Linked DNA regions of Homo sapiens: region 1 is linked to region 2. Evidence: fine-mapped expression QTL. A gene starts in region 2. The other region holds a variant in brackets. All regions are shown on one strand. Distances are between the middles of the regions.

Region 1 (10,672 bases), 28 kb before region 2:
TAGACACGTGTATGTACACGTACGTAGACACGTGTATGTACACGTACGTAGACACGTGTATGTACACGTGTATATATGTGTGTATATATATATGTGTGTGTGTGTGTATATATATATATATATATATTTTTTTTTTTCAGGGTCTTACTCCTGTCACCCAGGCTGGAGTGCAGTGGTATGATCTCGGCTCACTGCAGCCTTGACTTTCTGGGCTCAGGTGATTGTCCCGCCTCAGCCTCCTAAGTAGCTGGGACAACAGGCACGTGCTACAATACTCAGCTATTTTATTTTATTTTATTTTTATTTTTAGTAGGACAAGATTTCGCTATGTTGCCCAGGCTGCTCTTGAACTCCTGGGCTCAAGCAATCCGCCCAACTTGGCCTCTCAAAGTGCTAGGATTACAGGTAAGAGCCACTGTGCTCAGCCTACCCACTGTTTAATTGCCAAAAGAAGCCTGTGACACGAGCTTTACTATTCTCTTTTTACAGTGAGGCTCAGAGAGGCCAAGCAAACTCTCTCAAAGTCACACAGCTAAGAAATGCGAGTGGGATTCAAACCCAGAACATCTGACTCCGGAATCCATACCCTTTCCACCACCCCTAGGTTTGTAAGTATGTGGAAAGGAAAGACATGTTCAGAAACCATTAAGAACAGATGGTTCTGGGTTGATCTGATTTTCCCCGTTGATGGAATTATTTGGTCGGGGATAGGAGTGCCGCAACTCCTCATGTCTGGACTTCAGCAAGGCACACAGCACAATCTCTCCTGACATCCTGCAGACATGGGGTGATGTGTGGGCGAAATGGCTCAACGGCTGGAAGAATTTCTAATTAAATGAGAGGCTGCTTCTAAAGGCAATCCATGACTGAAAGCGGGAGATGGCGGCTTTGCACCACAGGGCTCTGTCCTTTGTCCTACTCTGTTGAACTTTTTTTTCCCTATCCTCCCCCCCATATTTATTTCTAATTATCGAAATAATATATGTCTGCTGTAGAAAAATATAAACTATAGCTAAGCCAAAAGAAAGAAAAAGCATCCTAATCCTCACCAGCACCACTTGCTGAACAGCCTTTTTCAATTTGCTGTAACTCTGAACATTTTTAGAATACAATGTTAGGACCCGAATTCCCGCAACAAAAGATAACTCCACTGTTCACACTGAGGGCGCATCCTGCCAGTCTCTTTATTGCAAACAATAGCAAGAAAATGTAGCACGTTATGGGGTGCTTACATTGAGCTGGCAACAGTCCTGAGCTTCTGACAGCCATTATTTCATTCAATCCTCCTAACCCTTTACGGGCACTTTTATGACCTATTTTTCACAGATGACAAAACCAAAGCTCAGAGATGAAATGATTTGCTCACACCACAGAGACTGGGTGAACAATTGACACAGGGTTTGAAGCAGGTTTTGTCGGATTCTGGAGTGGGGCTTTGAGCAACCATGGGACACCTCCCTCCAAAGGTGCCTGCGTGTTCACCTAGAACCATCCCCCACTGCCTGCCCTTCCACCCCACCCTCTACTAGTAAAGGGGGCAGTTTGTGCAGGACGGTCTGAATCTGCCTGTTGCTTCTCTTCTGCTTGCACAGTAGCATCCGGGGACACAAATGTTATGTGCGGGAAATGCGCGAGGGAAGAAAAGACACACCCACGATACCTTTAAGGGTAAACAACCTTTATCCCATGTAAATGGCAATGTAGATATAATAAGCAAATGATATAATAATAAGCAGATTGATATAATAAGCAAATTGCAATGGGAAGGGGAGAAGGGAAAAGATATTCATACTCACCAGACTATGGAGGATTCACCACCAGACTGGGAAGCAACAGCCTGGGTCGGCTCCAGAGTCGGCCACTTGTCCGTGCACAGACAAGGAAGAGGTCTCATGAAGCTTTGGCACAATCTAGGACCCTAGCTCTTTTGTAACGAGTTGTTTGGCATGAGGTCCAGGCACGAAGGCCCTTCGTGACCAGGCTCAAGGAACACAAAAAGGTCAACTTGTTTTTGCGATTGTCTGTTGTTTTTCTTATATACTTATTTATTTATTTTTTGAGACGGAGTCGTGCTTTGTCACCCAGGCTGGAGTGCAGAGGCACGATCTTGGCTCACTGCAATCTCTGCCTTCCCGGTTCAAGTGATTCTCCTGCCTCAGCCTCCCAAACAGCTGGGATTACAGGTGGCCGCCACCATGCCTGGCTAATTTTTGTATTTTTAGTAGAGACGGGGTTTCACCAAGTTGGCCAGGCTGATCTCGAACTCCTGGACTTCAGGTGATCCACCCACCTTGGCCTCCCAAAGTGCTGGGATTACAGACGTGAGCAACCACGCCCAGCTTTGTTTTTCAGTAACGTATAGGAATAGATTGAAATAGAGATTTCTCCAAAACAGCGCTGGATGAATGCCTCAAGGGGCTCACACAGCCCCTTCTGGTACTTGGTGACCATTGTTTGTGTCCATGTTCAATTGAGTTCAGATTTAATATTTAACTTTTCCTCCACAACGACCTAGGATGTGATCCCACACCAGGCACAAACCCCAGAGACTCTCCTGATCTGTCAGTAGCCACCCATGGGTGCTTACAGTAGGAGGGTGGCTTGCCTAGGAAGCCAGGAATTTATCTTTAAGTGACAAACACTTTTTAAAAACTTACTTTCAGGTTCTGTTCTAAGCACTTTAGAAATAACTTTTTTTTTTTAAATGACTTTTTTGGCAGAGTGCTGTGGCCCACATCTGTAATCCAGCACTTTGGGAGGCTGAAGCAGGAGGATCACTTGAGGCCAGGAGTTTGAGACCAGCCTGGGCAACATAGTGAGATCGTGTCTCAACAAAAATAGGCTGGGTGCGGTGGCTCACGCCTGTAATCCCGGCACTTTGGGAGGCTGAGGCGGGCGGATCACGAGGTCAAGAGGTCAAGACCATCCTGGCCAACATGGTGAAACACCGTCTCTACTAAAAATACAAAAATTAGGTGGGCTTGGTGGCACGCCTGTAGTCCCAGCTACCTGGGAGGCTGAGGCAGGAGAATCGCTTGAACTCAGGAGGCGGAGGTTGCGGTGAACCGAGATCACGCCACTGCACCCCAGCCTAGCGACAGAGTGAGACTCTGTCTCAAAAAAACAAAACAAAACCAAAAATAAATACTAATACAAATTAGCCGGGTATAGTGGTGCATGCCTGTTTGCCTAGCAACTAGGAAGGCTGAGGTGGGAAGATCGTTTGAGCTCACGAGTTCAAGGTTACAGTGAGCTATGACTGTGCCACTGCATTCCAGCCTCGGTGATTGAGATCCTGTCTCAAAAAAAAAAATGTTTTTTAAAGTAACATAAAGTTGGCCGGGTGTGGCGGCTCACGCCTGTAATCCCAGTGCTTTGGGAGGCTGAGGCAGGCAGATCACCTGAGGTCAGGAGTTTGAGACCAGCCTGGCCCAACATGGTGAAATCCCATCTCTACTAAAAAAAATACAAAATTAGCCCGGCGTGGTGACACACAGCTGTAGTCCTAGCTATTCAGGAGGCTAAGACAGGAGATTACTTGAACCTGGGAGGTGGAGGTTGCAGCAGGCCAAGATCACGCCACTGCACTCCAGCCTGGGTGACAAAATGAGACTCCCTCTCTCAATAAATAAATAAATAAATAAATAAATAAATAAATAAAATAAAATAAAATAAATAAATAACTAAAGTAACATAAAATAAAATTGACCATTTTGTTGGTGTACAGCTTTATGAGCTTTAACACATGTATAGATTCCTAGACCCAATAATGGTGTCTGAACAATAAACATTCATACACAAAAAAGAGAATTTCAACCGAAACCTCATACCTTATACAAAAATTAGCTCAAAAGGGAAAGCAATGTAAAATAATAAAACTTTAGAGAAAAGTAGGGGAAAATCTTCATGACCTCAGTTTAGGCAAATAGTTCTTAGACTGGACACCCAAAAGAATGAGTCACAAAAGAGAACAATTGATAAATTGGACTTCATCATAAATAAAAACTTTTGTTCTATGAAAGACAGGGTTAAGAAAACGAAAAAACCAGCTACGGACTGAAAGAAAATAGTTGCAAATCACATATTCAGCAAAAGACTTGTATCCAGAATATATAAAGAACCCTTCAAACTCAACAATAAGAAAACCAACAACCCACTTAAAAAAAAAAAAACCACATGAACAGACACTGCACCAAGGAGGATATAAAGATGGCAGATAAGCACATGAATAGATGTTTGACATCATTAGACAACAGAAAGATGCAATTTTTTTTTTTTTTTTTGAGACAGAGCCTTGCTCTGTCACCCAGGCTGGAGTGTGGTGGCATGATCTTGGCTCACTGCAACCTACACCTCCCAGGTTCAAGTGATTCTCTTGCCTCAGCCTACTGAGTAGCTGGGATTACAGACTTGTGTCACCATGCCCGGCCAATTTTTATATTTTTAGTAGAGATGGGGTTTCACCATACTGGCCAGGCTGGTCTTGAACTCAGGATCTCACGTGATCTGCCCACCTTGGCCTCCCAAAGTGCTGGGATTACAGGTGTGAGCCACCACGCTTGGCCGGAAAATGCAAGTTAAAACCATGATGAGCTGCACTATCCACACATTAGAATGGGTAATATAAAAAATATTGACAATCCGAAGTGCCGAGAGGGTGCAGAGCAATTAGAACTCTTGTCCATTGATGGTGGGAATGCAAAATGGTACAGCCATCCTGGAAAACATTTTGCACTTTTTCTAAAATTAAGCACACAATTACATATGACCCAGAAAACTCTCTTCAGGGTATTTATCCTAGAGAGATGAATATGCCCACATGAATGTTTATAGCCGCTTTATTCATAGTTGATCCAAAATGGAAACAGCCCTAATGTCTTTCAATGGGTAACTGAGTAAACAAACCACATTAATATATTGGCATATTTACTATTCAGCAAGAAAAAGGAATGGACTATTGATACACAGAACAAATTGGAGTCATCTCAAGGGCATTAGGAGTGGACAAAGCCTGTCTCAATAAGTCACATACTGTATTATTCCAGTTGTGTGATATTCCCTAAAAGATAGAACTATAGTGATGGTAGTGGGTGCAAACATTAGGGCTGAGAGGCCTGACCACACAGGGATAGTACTAGGGGGTCCTTCGGAGTGATACAGTCCTTCTGTGTCCTGACTATGCTGGCGGTTCTAGGAGTCCTTTCTCCATTCAGTTGTCTTTGCACTTTGGTCAAAAATCAATTTGCCATATTTGCATGGGTCTATTTCTGTACTGTCTATTCTGTTCCATTGACCTAGCTATCTGTCATTTCACCTGTACTACACTCACTGTCTTTTTTTTTTTTTTAGACAGGGTCTCCTTCTGTCGTTTAGGCTGGAGTGCAATGGTGCAATCTCAGCTCACTGCAACCTCTGCCTCCTGGATTCAAGCAATTCCCATGCCTCAGCCTCTTGAGTAGCTGGGATTACAGGCATGTGCCACCACGCCCAGGAATTTTTGTATTTTTAGTAGAGATGGGGTTTTTTCATGTTGCCCAGGCTGATCTTGAACTCCTGGCCTCAAATGATCCTCCAGCCTCAGCCACTCAAAGTGCTGGGATTACAGGCATGAGCCACCTTCCCCAGCTTTTTTTTTTTTTTTTTTTTTTTTTAAGAGACAGGGTCTTGTTTTTTTATCCAGGCAGAGTACAGTGGTGTGATCATGGCTCACGGTAACCTCACACTCCTGGGTTTAAGCGATTCCCCCACTTCAGCCTCCCCAGTAGCTGAGACTACAGGCACCACCATGCCCAACAAATTAAAAAAACTTTTGGCTGGGCGTGGTGGCTCATGTCTGTATTCCCAGCACTTTGGGAGGCCGTGGCAGATGTATCATGAGGTCAGGAGTTCAAGACCATCCTGGACAATATGGTGAAATCCCATCTCTACTAAAAATACAAAAAATTAGCCGGGTGCGGTGGCGGGCACCTATAATCCCAGCTACTCGGGAGGCTGAGGCAGAGAATTGCTTGAACCCAGGAGGCAGAGGTTGCAGTGAGCTGAGATGGCGCCACTGCACTCCAGTCTGGGTGACAGAGCGAGACTCCATCTCAAAAAAAAAAAA[G/AG]TTTTTTTTGTAGAGACAGGGTCTTACTATGTTGCCCAGGCTGGTCTTGAACTCCTGGCTTCAAGCAATACCTACCTCTTGACTTAGCCTCCCAAGGCATTGGAATTATAGGCGTGAGATACCCAGCCTGGCCTAAGAGTATTGTTTTTTAATTGTGAGTGGATTTTGAATTTTTGTCAAATGGTTTTTCTTTATCAATCAATATGAGCATTTGCTTTTTTTTTTTTTTTTTTTGAGACAGAGTCTTGCTCTATCACCCAGGCTGGAGTGCAGTAGTGAGATCTTGGCTTACTGCAACCTCTGCTCCTGGGTTCAAGCGATTCTTCTGCCTCAGCCTCTGGAGTAGCTGGGATTACAGGTGCCCGCCACCACGGCCCAGCTAATTTTTGTATTTTTAGTAGAGACAGGGTTTCACCATGTTGATTAGGCTGGTCTAGAACTCCTGACCTCAAGTGATCCACCCGCCTCGGCCTCCCAAAGTGCTGGGATTACAGGTGTGAGCCACTGCACCTGGCCAAGTGATTGATTTTTGAATATTGAACCAGCCTTGCATTGTCAGGATAAATCCCACCTGATTGTAACATATACATTTTTTTTTGTTATATATTCCTGAGTTCAGTTGTCTAATATTTTTTTCTTTTTGAGATGCAGTCACACCCTATCGCCCAGACTGGAGTGCAGTGGCACGATCTTGGCTCACTGCAGCCTCTGCCTCCCAGGTTCAAGGCATTTTCCTGTCTCAGCCACCTGAGTAGCTGGGACTACAGGCGCATGCCCCCATGCCTGGCTAATTTTTATATTTTTAGTAGAGACAGGGTTTCACCATATTGGTCAAGCTGATCTCAAACTCCTGACCTCAGGCGATCCACCCGCCTTGGCCTCCCAAAGTGCTGGGATTACAGGCTTGAGCCACTGAGCTCGGCTTATTTATTTATTTAGAGATGGAGTCACACTCTGCTGCCCAGGCTGGAGTGCAGTGGCACAATCTTGGCTCACTGCAACGTCTGCCTCCTGGGTTCAAGCAATTCTCCTGCCTCAGCCTCCCGAGTAGCTGGGACCACAGGTGCACACTACCACACCTGGCTAATTTTTGTATTTTTAGTAGAGACAGAGTTTCACCACATTGGCCAGGCTGCTCTCGAACTCCTGACCTCAAGTGATCCATCTGCCTCAGTCTCCCAAAATGCTGGGATTGTAGGCATGAGCCACCGCGCCTGGCCAGCTAATATTTTGTTGAAGATTTTTACATATATGTCCATGAGAGATATTGATCTGTAGTTTTTTTTTCTTACAATATCTTTGTTTCATTTTGGTCTCAGGGTAATGTTGCCCTCATAAAATGAACGAAGGAGTATTTTCTCTTGTTCTATTTTCTGGAAGAGATTGTGTAAAATCAGTGTTATTTCTTCTTTAGTTATCCCGCTCTACTGCACACTTCCTATGATTGTGTCCGTGTTCAGGGCCAGGTGGCAGGAGGACACAGAGAGAAGAAAGCTATAGGGGTTCTCCTTCTTGGGACTACAACTGTTTTTAAAAATAAACACACACACATACACGCCCAGGCTGGTGTCTTACTCCTGCCCGCAAGTGATCCACCTCGGCCTCCCATAGTGCTGGGATTACAGACATGATCCACAGCCCCTGGCCCACAACTCTTGATCGGAGAGGGAAAGATTTGGTTGTCTGTGGACCCTGCAGCCACTGATACTACTGTCACCACTGCTACTCCCATGGAATTGTCTCGGGGCTGGGGCACGGGAGAATGAAGAAGAGAAAAATGGAGTTCCTTTTCTCTCTCTCAGTGCTAGACCTTCCCTTTCCACTCCTCGAGGCAGAACGAGCATTTCTCCTGTTGATCCCTCTCGTAGCCCCAGTGCCCATTCTGGATTTGGCGCTGTCTTGTATCGAGGCTGGGGAATATCAGAGGAAAAATGAGAAACTCATTTCAGCTCAGTGGAACGTTGAATTCTGGCTTTCTTCCCCCGTTTCCCCGCTGTGTTTACTTTCACACTCTTCAGAGAGCTGCCCCGTGCGTGTCTGTCCATGTTTCACAGCAGCATTCAGCAGGAGAGACAGGGTGGAGGCTGCTTACTCCATCTCATCTGGAACCTAATAGCTTTTTAAACCATCACAACCATATGAAGTAGATGCTATTGTTATATACATGTGGCCGATGACAAAACTGAGGCCCTTAGAGGTTAAGTAATTTTCCTAAGATCACACAGCTAGTCAGTGGCCAACCCAGTCATCCTAGCCCCAGAGTTTGTGGTCTGAGCTGCAAGTTCCACAGCTTCAGAGGGAGTTGAATGTGACAGCTCTGTGGGGTGAGGTATGGGGCTCGCCTGCTGTGGACAGGCCCTGATATCTCACTCCCTCTAACCTGCACAGTGTGTGAAGGGAGAGTGCATAGTGTTTAGGGAATTGCTTTCTTCTTCTTCTTCTTTTTTTAGACAGAGTCTCACTCTGTCATCCAGGCTGGAGTGCAGTGGTGTGATCTCAGCTCATTGCAGCCTCCGCCTCCCAGGTTCTGGTGATTCTCCTGCCTCAGCCTCCCGAGTAGCTGGGATTATAGGCACGTGCCACCACGCCCAGCTAATTTTTGTATTTTTAGTAGAGACAGATTTTCACCATGTTGGCCAGGCTGGTCTCGAACTCCAGACCTCAGGTGATCCACCCACCTTGGCCTCCCAAAGTGCTAGGATTAGAGGTGTGAGCCACCGCGTCTGGCCTTTTGCTTTCTTCTTTGATGAAGATCTGGACTGTGGTGGGATAGGAATAGCCTTCTGTCTTCAAGACATATGCATGTATGTGCATGTGTGTGTATGTGTGTATACATGCTTATGTATGTGCCTGTGTGTAAACCATGCAGCCATGGACAGTGAGGATGTGGATCCATTCATTCAGCAAGTGTACTTGAGCCACCACCATGTATCACACATTATTCTAGTCACTGGGGATATATCAGTGAAGAAACAGACAAAAACCTCTGCTCTCATGGAGCCTCCATTCTAGTAGTCAGACAACAAGCATACAAATAAGTCAATTACATAGAATGCTAGAAAGTGCTAAGTGCTGGGGAATAAACAGGGCAGATAAGGAGGATTGGGAGTGTTGGGGTAAAGGGCAGGATATAGTTATTAACACGAAACGATGTCTGCCATGTACTCTTGAATGCACTGCCTAAACTGCGATTTCATATGACTTCCTTGTATTCCAGAGGAAACTCATTCAGGCAAGTTCAGCCCTTTATGAGGAATTCCCCTGTGGTCACATTCCAATTCCTGGACCTGCTGCCACCCTCAGAACTGCATGCTCCTTCTTCAGACTTTCTAAGAATGACTCAGGTCATTGGTGGAGTGAAGTCAAGATTTCCAACTCAGTCACCTGAAGAGATGGAGATACCATTCATGGAGCTGGAGGTCCCTGGAGATTTGGGAATTCAGATAACAAGCTAAGATAAGGGTGAGCTACTGACTTGACCTCTCTCTGTGTCAGTTTCATATTCTGTAAAACCAGGCTAATGATGGTACATTATGTGTTGTGAAGACTAAAATAATATGTGAGACGTACCTGGCATAGTACTTGGCACAGTGTAGGCACTTAAGAAAGATTGATTTATTATTTTTGCTATTTAGGCTACATTGACTTTAAGCTGACTGAGAGATATCCATGGGGATATGTCTAGAAACAGTGGACTATGTGGATAGGGAACTCGGCAGAGGAGCAAATTACAGGGATTTTGGGGGTGATTAAAATCTTGGGGGTAGATGACAACCCTACAGTGAAGAAGAAAAAAGAAAAGAGAGCCAAGCATCTCATCTTGGGGAGCACCAATGTAAATAGGCAGAAACAGGAAATGCCAGGAAAAAATCATTTTTTGTTTTGTACTTACAATGGCTAGAAAAAAATATAATTTTACTTGTTTCTCTCTCTTTTTTTTTTTTTTTTTTTTTTTTTTTTGTGAGATGGATTCTCACTCTGTTGCCCAGGCTGGAGTGTGGTGGCATGATCTCGGCTCACTGAAACCTCCGCCTCCCGGGTTCAAGGAATTTTCCTGTCTCAACCTTCCAAGTAGCTGGGATTACAGGCACACACCACCATGCCTGGCAACTTTGTATTTTGGGTACAGACGGGGTTTCACCATGTTGGCCAGGCTGGTCTCGAACTCCTGACCTCAAGTGATCCGCCTGCCTTGGCCTCCCAAAGTGCTGAGATTACAGGTGTGAGTCACCATGCCTGGCCAAATATATACAATTTTTTTTTTTTTTTGATACGGAGTCTCACTCCGTCGCCCAGGCTGGAGTGCAATGGCATGATCTCGGCTCACTGCAACCTCTGCTTCCTGGGTTCAAATGATTCTGCTGTCTCCGCCTCCTGAGTAGCTGGGATTATAGGCACCTGCCACCATGCTCAGCTAATTTTTGTATTTTTAGTAGAGATGGGGTTTCACCATGTTGGCCATGCTGGTCTTGAACTCCTGACCTCAAGTGATCCACCCTCCTCGGCTTCCCAAAGTGCTGGGATTACAGGTGTGAGCCACTATGCCTGGCCATATATACAATTTTTATT
Region 2 (10,672 bases):
CTCTTTGAGAAAAATTTGGAGCGGCAATGATAGGATTTGCTGTTGCAGACACTGGAGACAGGAAGGGAGAAATACTGAACTCTCCCCTGCGTGTCTTCAGGAGGCCCTGGAGGCAGATGGAGTTCCCAGGGCAGAGAGAAGTGGAGGCAGAGCCCAGGCTCCAAATTAGTGGAGTGAGCCCCCACTGGGTCCTGAGTTGGCTCAGAGTGGGTGAGACAAGGGGCCCAAGGTATGTGTGTACATGTCACAGCTATCCCCAGCCCAAGGGTTTCTCCAGGGCATAGGTCCTGGCATCTGGGGGCAGCTACCCCCCAATCTATCCCTTCCTCTGCTGCTGCCATTTAATTTTGGAATAAGACATTGGCCTAAGAGCTGGGCCAGGCTCTGGCCAGTGGCGGGTTGGGATTGGGGGGTCTGCAAACAGGGATGAAGCCAGGCTGGAACCACGTGGACCTGGGTTTAGTCTTGACCCTTCCTGACTCCCATGTAACCTTAGACAGCCTCAGCTACCTCACTGGGCCTTGGTTTTCTCATCTGATAAGGGTGAAGAGTAATTCCTGCCTCCCTCACAAAGTAGCAAAGAGGCATTTGTAAGATGATCTGTGAGTAAGGTTCTGAAGCGCAGGGCTAGGTGAGGGACGGCTGCCAGCTTGCTGCAGGACCACAGCCAGTTTCTTCCCCTTTCTGAACTTTCGTGTCCTCACTTTCAAAAAAAGCCATCCTGGCCAGGTGCAACGGCTCACAGCTATAATCCCAGCACTTTAGGAGGCTGAGGTGTGTAGATGCTTGAGCCCATCTCTCCAAGAAATAAAAAAAAAAAATAGCAGGCCATGGTGGCACACACTTTTGGTCCCAGCTCCTTGGGAAGCTGAGATGGCAGGATCCCTTGAGCCCATGAAACATCGCTGTAGTGAGCAATGATCATGCCACTGCACTCCAGCCTGGGTGACAGAGTGAGAGCCCGTCTAAAAAAAAAAAAAAAAAAAAAAAAAAGCAAGCCATTCCCCGGCTCCTCACGTAGCTTTGACCTCTTTGTAGAACCCTTGCTTCTTCATCACCTCCCGCTGCCCCCATGAGGCCCAGAACAGATGTGCAATGAATGACCACTCATTGGTTGATTAACTGAAGGCAGCAGGGATTGTGGTTAGACAGCCAGGATGCGGGGGTGGGGCGGGGGAGTGTGTGTGATGGAGGACTTGGTGCAGGCCAAGCTGCTGCCCTGGGGTCACGTATGTGGGGGCCCCCATTCCCTTTGCTCCTTTACCTGCCTTCATTCACTCTGTGACCTCAGGTGTTCCTGGGGTGTTCCTCTCCTAGTCTCATAGCACTTACTCCATCCCCATCACTGCCAGTGGCCATCCACCTTGTGCCAGAGGGCGTGGTGTTGGGCAGGGGAAGAGGTACCACTATCATCTTCATTTAGTGGGTCTGCAGGCCAGGAACTGGTGCTTTCTTTAAGCAGGGCTCTGTGGCAAGCACTGTGGGAATGTTACTGAAAACAGGTCCTGACCCAGACCCCAAAAGAGGGTTCTTGGGGCTCATGCAAGAAAGAATTCAGGGTGATTCCGCAGAGTAGAGTGAAAGTAAGTTTATTAGATAAGTAAGGAAACAAGGGCCAGGTGCGGTAGCTCATGCCTGTAATCTCAGCATTTTGGGAGGCCAAGGCAGGAGGATTGTTTGAGCTTGGGCAAAAAAGTGAGCCTCCATCGCTACAAAATCAATCAATAAATAAAAGCCTATGGCTACTCCATAGGCAGAGCAGCCCCCAGGGCTGCCGTTTGGCTATTTTTATGGTTATGTCTTGATCATATACTAATAAACAAGGGGTGGATTATTCATGAGTTTTCCAGAAAAGGGGTGGGGATTTCCCAGAACTGAGGGTTCCTCCTCCTTTTAGACCATGGAGGGTAACTTCCAGATGTTGCCATGGCATTTGTAAACTGTCTGATGCTGGTGGGAGCATCTCTTAGCATGCTAATGCATTATAATTAGTGTATAATGATCAGCGAGGCCAGGCACGGTGACTCATGCCTGTAATCCCAGCACTTTGGGAAGCCGATGGGGGCAGATCATTTGAGGTCAGGAGTTTGAGACCAGCCTTGCCAACATGGTGAAACCTCATCTCTGCTGAAAAAGAAAAAAAGAAAAATCAGTGAGGGCAATCAGCGGTCATGCTCATCACCCTCTTGGTTTTTGCGTGTTCTTACCAGCTTCTTTATCTCATTCTATCAGCAGGGTCTTGTGACCCGTATCTTGTGCCGGCCTCCTATCTTGTCCTGTGACTAAAAATGTCTAACCTCCTGGGAATGCAGCCCAGCAGGTTGCAGCCTCATTTTACCCAGCCCTTGTTCAAGATGGAGTCGCTGTGGTTCAAACGCCTCTGACAGGAACACATCAAGATGAGTGAGAACCATTGCTGTGTTCTAGACATAGTGATGTAGTTAGGCTTTGCATCCCCACCAAATCTCATCTTGAATTGTAATCCCCGTAGTCCTCATGCGAAGGGAGAGACCAGGTGGAGGTCATTGAATCATGGGGGCAGTTTTCCCCATGCTGTTCTCGTGATAGTGAGTGAGTCATCACGAGAGCTGATGATTTTATAAGTTGCTCTTCTCCCCTTTGATCAGCACTTCTCCTTCCTGCCGCCTTGTGAGAAAGGTGCCTTGTTTCCCCTACGCCTTCCACCATGATTTTAAGTTTCCTGAGGCCTCCCCAGCCATGCTGAACTGTGAGTCAATTAAACCTCTTTCCTTTATAAATGACCCAATTTCAGGTAGTTCTTTTTGTTTTTTGTGTGTTTTTTGAGATGGTGTCTCACTCTGTTACAGCCCAGGCTGGAGTGTAGCGGCACGATCTCGGTTCACTGCAACCTCTGCCTCCCTGGTTCAAGTGATTCTCCTGCCTCAGCCTCCCAAGTAGCTGGGATTACAGGCATGCGCTACCACGCCCGGCTAATTTTTGTATTTTTAGTAGTGATGGGGTTTCACCATGTTGGCCAGGCTGGTCTTGAACTCCTGACCTCAGGTGATCCGCCTGCCTCAGCCTCCCAAAGTGCTGGGATTACAGGCGTGAGCCACTGCGCCTGGCCTCGGGCAGTTCTTTTCAAAGCAGTATGAGAAGGAACTAATACACATGGCCATGCAGTGTAGAAAGCACATCTACTACCACTTCCTCCTGGATTGTCACCACATCCCTGAGAGGACCCAGAAGAGGAATCTGTTGTTTGCAAAGGAGAAAAATGAAAGCTACGGTTTGGTTGACATTTGTGGAGTGCCTGTTATTTCTTAGGCACTTAGGTTTACCTCTGCGACAGGATAGAACTGTAAGTGGCCCTGGCATCTGAGTCAATCCCTAGATCCATTGTCTGTTGGGTGGGGCTGGGTCCCCACATGAGTAGCAGCCAGAACAGGTCCCTCCAAGGCCATGGTCCTGTGGGAGCTCAGATCCTTTTAACTAGGGTTGGAGCCTGGCGCCCTCTGGCGGCGAGCTGCAACCTCTACCCGCCAAACCCAAGGCCAGGCTGAGACCAGCCACCAATTCACACCCTTGTTTTGCAAGTGGAAAACCTCAGTCCAGAGAAAGGCCCGGGCTTGCTGAGACAGAATGACTTTCGTATTTGCTTTGTGGAATGTAAGTTGTCTGGTGAAGCATTATTGCTCTTCTTGTTAACCAAAATCAAAATTGAGAGGGTCAAGGCAGAACACTGATGTTTGCTGAGCCTTCCTTTATTCTCCCTATCTTCAGATGGGTGTGATGAGCCTATTTTACTGAGAGGAAAAGTGAAGCTCAGAGAGGCTAAAGAAATTACTTTCCCAGGCTCACAGAGCCAGCCAATGCAGAGCCAGGATTTGGACCCAGGTCTGTCTGACTCTAAGCCCACCCTGCCAGATCCCTGGAGTTTCACCTCCAGTCCCCTCTTCCCCAACAGTCCCCCCCATCTCCCAACTTCTTGGTATACTGATCTGGGACAGCAGAACGTCAGCAGTCATAAGTCCTTAGCTCCGTACTTGGTGTCACCGTGTCATTCAGACACAGCCAGTTACCACTCCTTGGCCTAAGCAGGGGAGGGAGACTGGGGGTTGGGAAGAGACGCTGGGCAGGGGAGACTCAGGGGCTTCTGGTGGGGATGGATTAGTGGGGTTGAGAATCTAAGCCAGAATTCGGAACCTCGGTAGCTATGAGATCTTGAGCAAGCGTCTTTACCTCTGTGAGCCTCAGGTTTCTCAGCCAAAAAGTGGGAAATTATAACAATACTTTGACGGCCCCACTTAGGAAAAAAAACAGTCCAGGTTTGGAGTTAAATTTTGGGGTCTGACTGGCTGTGGGGTTTGGGGCCAGTGATTTGACATCTCTGAGCAGATTTCAGATCCTGAATCTGTAAAATGGGTTGTTGTGGGGATTTAGTGAGGTGACTGAGCTGGCAGCACTTTGGAAAATGTGAGGCTTTACAAATGAAGCTGGTTTTTAGCACTTCCCTGGAATGGGGGCTCTGAGATGGGGAGGGAAATGGATACTGGAAACCGGCACCCCCCTCAACATTTCCCCTGAACCCAGGCACATGAGTTCTCATTCTGCATCCTATGCACCCACCAAATGGGTTTCTCCAAGCCTGGCACCCCACTCCTTTCCACCTTGCCTGAGGACCTGAGGCCCCTTCCCTCTTCCCACCTTGTTCTAGTTGCAAGCTGCAGAGGATGGCCTGAGTTTCCATTCTTCAGCCTGGAGGCTCTGGCTGTAGCCTCAGTCTTCCAGCTGCAGCCTCAATCTTCTGCCCCAAGAGAATCCGTTGGATGATTTGGGTTGATCTTTGGGAGGCAGGAGAGCTAGTTCCAAGGCCTGTGACCAAAACCTTTCAGTCACTCTCGAGTCCCAGAACCCCATCTTTCTTGAACCAAGCCTGCTCTGGTGCCCAAAGGGAAGGGGTGTCAGTGATGGGGGCCCACAGGAGACTTTTACTGTGGTCCAGTTTTATCTGTTATGCTGCTGGTCTGGCACCCACAGAACTGCCCTGTCCCCCTCCCGTCTCTGGCCTCAGTACTGGCGTTGCCAGTATGAGGAGACAGTGAGAGGAGGGGTGAGGGCTTCGGAGTGAGAGAGGCTGACAGGAGGCGGGGACTCTGGGGGGCTGAGGACTATAAAGCGGCCCAGCCGAGGGCAGGGGCCCATCCGGCCTGAGGCAGGTGCTCGCTTGGTCTAGTGCCCATTTACTCTGGACTCCGGGTAAGTGGGCTCAGCCTGCCTGGGGCTCTGGGGGCCTCCCCCAGGCTGGGGCCTGGGATGGAGAGGAGGTGGTGCTTTGCAGGGCCAGGGGCCTTGGGAGGCCTAAGGTCCTGCTTGGGTCTTGCTTTCTGCATCTGGACAGACCTGTCACGCTAGAAGAGCCGTCTGCTGACTGCACGTGTGTGTGCACACTCGTGTGCATGGCTGTGAACTGGAATGTGTGACTGTGACCTTGTGAGTGACTGGGGTCCCTGTGTGAGTGCCTTTGCTGGTCTGTGCAGGACGACATGGACAGTAGCGTCTTCTCCAGGACCGATATCTGTGTCTCTATCGCAGGGTGGAGGGCCAGACCCACAAGGCCATGGATTTCTGTCCTTGGCTTCCCGAGTTCATTCTGTGTCCCCCACCCTGTGGGTGACCTGGCATGCCCTTATTCCCACTAGCTGCTGCCTCCTGGGAGCCATGAGGCCCTGGATGTCATGAGTCCCGTGTCTCCAGGACTCACATCCCCATTTTCTCTGCTATACTTTTCTAACTTGCGAGGCCCTGGCTTGCTGGGCTGCTCACAGGACAGGCTGTCCGTGCCTTCAGAGCAGTGTCTAGGAGGTGGAGTGGCCAGCTTGGAGTGGCCCTTTGCTCTGCCCCCTTGTCCCCAGGCTTGGAGAAATGGATGATGGGCTAAGGGGCTGGATAGTTGGGCCCTGCTTCCTGGGCACGGGAAAATCTGCAGCCCGGGCTCTCCACCTCCCCTCTGCTTGCTCCTCAGATGGCTGCCGCACGCCTCTGCCTCTCCCTGCTGCTCCTGTCCACCTGCGTGGCTCTGTTACTACAGCCACTGCTGGGTGCCCAGGGAGCCCCACTGGAGCCAGTGTACCCAGGGGACAATGCCACACCAGAGCAGATGGCCCAGTATGCAGCTGATCTCCGTAGATACATCAACATGCTGACCAGGCCTAGGTGTGTGCCACAGTTGGGGAGAGAGATCCCAGCCCCTGGGACCCTGGGCCCACTCCACATTCCTGGCCACACCCTATCCCCAGCCCCAGCCCCAGCCCCTTCCAGGCCTGCTCTTGGGAAAACAGGGCATCTGTGCTCAACAGGCCTAGACCAATGTGCCCTGGGCAAGATGGTGCCTACAGGCAGATATGAAACAGGTGGGCTGGCACCTGGGCACAGTGCTTGCCCCTGCTGCCTCTTCCCTCCCAGGTATGGGAAAAGACACAAAGAGGACACGCTGGCCTTCTCGGAGTGGGGGTCCCCGCATGCTGCTGTCCCCAGGTGAGTTTGACTCCCTGCCCTGTCTGTCCAGCTCCCTGGAGCTGAAATGGGGGTGGTGGGACTGAATCAGGGCTTGGAAAGGTGTAGTGGGGGGTGGAAGAGGGAGAACAGGAGCCCAGGGCCAGCCTGAGGCCTCCTGAGGGCACGAGGCCTACCCCCTACACTGCCATGTTCTGCCCTGTCCTCACAGGGAGCTCAGCCCGCTGGACTTATAATGCCACCTTCTGTCTCCTACGACTCCATGAGCAGCGCCAGCCCAGCTCTCCCCTCTGCACCCTTGGCTCTGGCCAAAGCTTGCTCCCTGCTCCCACACAGGCTCAATAAAGCAAGTCAAAGCCACAGCCTGTCCTGTGTCTCTGTGGACCCCTGGTGGGGGCAGCAGGAAGTGCCAAATGCATGGGAGAGAAAGGGGAGGGCAGGGCAGGGCAGAGGAAAAGGGGATCATCCAGAACGTTGGCGGGGGTCATCAGAGTCACTCAACTCATCCTCTCCCCTTCGCAGAGGGAAAAGTGGTGGCCAGAGGAAGGCAGGGACTCCTCTGAGCAGATGGTCCTTCAGCAAGTCTGTGAAGTGGCAGTCTTGAATCTTCCCAGTTCAGTACCCATAGACCTTCCCGACACAGCCTGATGACAACCCTTCCCCAAGTGCACCCCTCACCAGTGCCTTACTGCAGCCTAGGCAGCAGAAGCACCAAAATTTATACGAAAGCACCCTTGGCATGGGGGCAGGGGCACAGCCCAGCCTGGAAGAACGATTCTGGTGCTATGGCAGTCATGGCTGCATCCAGGGGCCTGAGCTGCCGTCCAGAAATTTGGAGAGAATGGGCTGCCCTGAGAGGTAGTGAAGTCCTGGGCACAGGAGGTATTCAAGCTGCTGTGGAAGGGGAGGAGGCTAGATTAGCTGAGAGTTCCAGCCACCATGAGTTGAATCTGTAGATTGTACACTCCAGCCCTGGGAGGACAAGGACCTGGATCCTGCCCCAGGGAGGACTTCCCAGATTCCCAGAGAACCCATCTTTTCCTGGCCCTTCTCAGGCACCCTGAATAGGTGGGGACAGTGCGCGTGTGCATGCGTGTGTACGCGCATGTGTAAAGGGGAGAAGTGAGGGAACTAGAATGTTTCTGGTTCCTAGAAAGGCTTCTCCTGCCTCCCCCACATGCTTGGTCTCAAGGGATGGGGTTATGGGTTTGGAGGATGAGGGGTCCACTTTCCTGGGCTCAGCACCTTGCACAGAAATGGAAATGACACACAATTGTGTTTCCCCTCAAGTCCTACTCCATCTGGTGTGTGCAAATGACCTGGAAGTAGAAACAGGTCCTAAAAGGCAAAGAGCTTCTAGAGGATGCAGCTGCTTGGCTCAGATTGATTTTTTGTTTGTTTTTGGAGACAGGATCTTGCTCTGTCACCCAGGCTGGAGTACAGTGGCATGATCACAGCTCACCATAGCTTTGACCTCCTGGGCTCAAGCGATCCTCCTGCCTCAGCCTCCCAAACAGCTGGAACTACAGGCACATGCCACCACACCCAGCAAATTTTTTTATTTTTTAGAGACAGGGTCTTGCTATGTTGCCCAGCATGGTCTTAAACTCCTGGGCTCCAGCGATCTGCTCACCTCGGCCTCCCAAAATGCTGGGATTACAGGTGTGAGCCACTGTGCCCAGCCTCAGGTTGATTCTTAAATCCAAAGATGTCTGGATAGAGAGATGGTTTCGCAAAAGAACGGTTTGAGTCTGGGAGAGGGAGCCTGAAGTCCCAGCATTTTCTCTGGCAGCTTAAGGGGATGCGCGGTGAATGGGGAGAGGAGTCTGGGCTGTTTGGTAGAAACTTGAGCCAGGTGGGAGTTGGGGTGTGTCTAGCTGAAGCCCCTTCTTTGAGGTTTCTTCTCTCACCTCTGCTCTCCCTCTGGGTTAGAGCCCCCCACACTGGTGCTGTCTGTGCAGGACTACAGGGGCAATAAGTGTCTTCTCCAGGACCCGTATCTGTGTCTCTACCACGGGGTGGAGGGCCAGACCCACAAGGCCATGTGTGGGTGGAGTGGGGGAAGGTGGATGGGTTGCCAGGGGAGGCAGGGGAGGACCCCCAACAGCTGAGGTCTTTTTCTCTCACAGCAGAAACTACAGGGTCCCACTTCCCGTTCCATGGACTGGTCCCTCCCTGCCCGCAGGCCCACAGAAGTCACTGAAGCAACAAAAATTTGTCTTTATTGTTTTCACTGAGGGGATGAGGAGGGGTCGAGGCCCCTCTCAATACAAAGGGGTTGGTGGGCAGAGAGGCGTCTGGAGGCCAAGGCCCAGCCTGGAGAAAGAAGCCCCCCCCACAGGGGTGCTGTGTCTCCCCGCATGCCCGCCCCCAGGAACTTCCTCTCGCTAGCACCCAAGCTGCCCCCAGCCCCGAGGCCCCTGGCTCGGTGCCCAGCATCCAGGCTGTCCTACCTGGGGCCCCGGGAGGAGGTCGGTGGTCGGGGTTCCGAGGTGTTCAGCCACTGGGGGTTCGTGGTGGTCCATGGTGGGGGTTTCGTGGCTTTTGATGGGGAGGTGTCCGTGGCGTTCGCAGTTTTCTTGTGGTTTTTAGATTTCTTCGGGCTGGGAACAAGTCTTTGCAGTCATGAGGCCGCTCCCCGAGCCCAGCTCAGGCCGCGATGTGCGTGGGGGTGCCTGGTGGCGTCCGTGTCCCCCCCCCGCGCCCCCCCCACCCCCCGCTTTCCTCCCTCCCTCCCTCCCTTCCTCACACCCTCCGCCGGCCCACCTGCTGTTGAAGAGCTTCCCCAAGTACTTCTTGATGGAGCCTAAGTTCAGCCAACTGGCGGCCCTGGGCTGCGGCACTTGCAGCTCCTCGCCGAGGGCGCCCTCGGGCTGCATCAGCAGCGACACGAGGCCCGCTATGGCCAGAGCGAATGCGCAGCGCAGAGCAGGCGTCTGGAGGGGGCGGGGCAGACAGAGCCGCGGGAGGTCACGTGATGCCGGGGCTGTGGTCAGCGCGGCACCCGGACCGGAGCTTGCAGGTGTTCCGCGCGGTGGGCAGGCTGGGGTGCAGGGGCGCTCAGACCGAGGGTCGTGTCTATTTCTGGGACACACACCAGAGCACGGACGCCTTAAGGGACATCCTGGTGCTCGGAGGAATGGTACACACCTGGACATGCCCGGTGATGCAGGCAGAGCATCGAGGCGCGGTGGCTCACGCCTGTAATCCCAGCACTTTGGGAAGCCGAGGCGGGCGGATAACCTGAGGTCAGGCGTTCAAGATCAGCCTGGCCAACATGGCGAAACCCCGTCTCTACTAAAAATACAAAAATTAGCCGGGCGTGGTGGTGGGCGCCTGTAATCCCAGCTACTCTGGGGGCTGAGGCAGGATAATTGCTGGAACCCGGGAGGTGGAGGTTTTAGTGAGCCGAGATTGCGCCACTGTACTCCACCCTGCCCAACAGAGCCAGACTTCGTCTCAAAAAAAGAAAAAAAAAAAAAAGAAAAAGAAAAAAAAAAAAAAAAAAACGAACGAGGAGACACACCCTAAGGTGGACGCATGAGGACGGCATAAAGCCATTGGTCAGCTCCCTAACCTCACTGCCCTCTCTCCCGCAAACTCCTTGCTTATCCCCCTCCTTTCTCCCTGCTGTTCCCGCAAAATGACGGTCACTCTGTTCTCTGCCTGGAAGACTCTTCCTCCAGACATCCTCATGGCCAGCTCTGTCTCCCCTTGTAAGCATTAGCTCAAAATCCACCTTTTAAATGGATCCTACCCTGACACCCCTATTTATAATTGCAACCTGGCCGGGCGCGGTGGCTCACGCCTGTAATCCCAGCACTTTGGGAGGCCGAGGTGGGAGGACTGCTTGAGCCCATGAGTTCAAGACTAGCTTGGGCAAAAGACAGAGAGCCCCGTCTCTACGATTTAAAAAAATAAATAAATAAAATAATATTGCAACCAAACCCCTCATCTTGCTCTTTTTCTTGCTCTATTTTTGCCCTATTTTTTCTTTTCTTTCTTTTTATTTTATTTTATTGTTTTAAGGCAAGGCCTTCTTTTGCCTTCCAGGCTGGAATGTAGTGTCGGGATCATAGCTCACTACAGCCTCAAACTCCTGGGCTCAGGCCATCCTTTTGCTTCAGCCTCCCAAGTAGCTAGGTCTACAGGTGCATACAATCATGCCCAACTAAATTTTAATTTTTTGTAGAGA

Alleles and levels. Positions count from the first base shown, and alleles are read on the strand shown. Sizes are in standard deviations (SD) of each study's normalised expression.
For the expression in macrophages after interferon gamma of the gene that starts at base 5,165 in region 2, allele AG in region 1 goes with a lower level than allele G (large effect, 0.94 SD a copy in Alasoo 2018).

Evidence for each region. PIP is the estimated chance that this variant, and not a neighbour inherited with it, causes the effect.
Region 1: its variant is the best candidate, but not a certain one, in a credible set for the expression of PPY in macrophages after interferon gamma (Alasoo 2018, PIP 0.59).

Annotation. Positions count from the first base shown.
Region 1 is chr17:43,965,181-43,975,852 of GRCh38, reverse strand. It overlaps a transcript of PYY not described here. Among named protein-coding and RNA genes, the nearest start is that of PYY, 17 kb to the right of the region's middle. The variant G/AG (reference allele first, on the strand shown) is at 6,104.
Region 2 is chr17:43,936,969-43,947,640 of GRCh38, reverse strand. It overlaps PPY (pancreatic polypeptide), which reads left to right and starts at 5,165. Exons shown (of 4, transcript NM_002722.5): 1 at 5,165-5,220; 2 at 5,987-6,177; 3 at 6,427-6,498; 4 at 6,689-6,837. The coding sequence starts at 5,987. The coding sequence ends at 6,713. LINC01976 (long intergenic non-protein coding RNA 1976) reads right to left here and starts at 9,380. Exons shown (of 2, transcript NR_136406.1): 1 at 9,244-9,380; 2 at 8,679-9,080. RefSeq lists an enhancer at 9,094-9,594.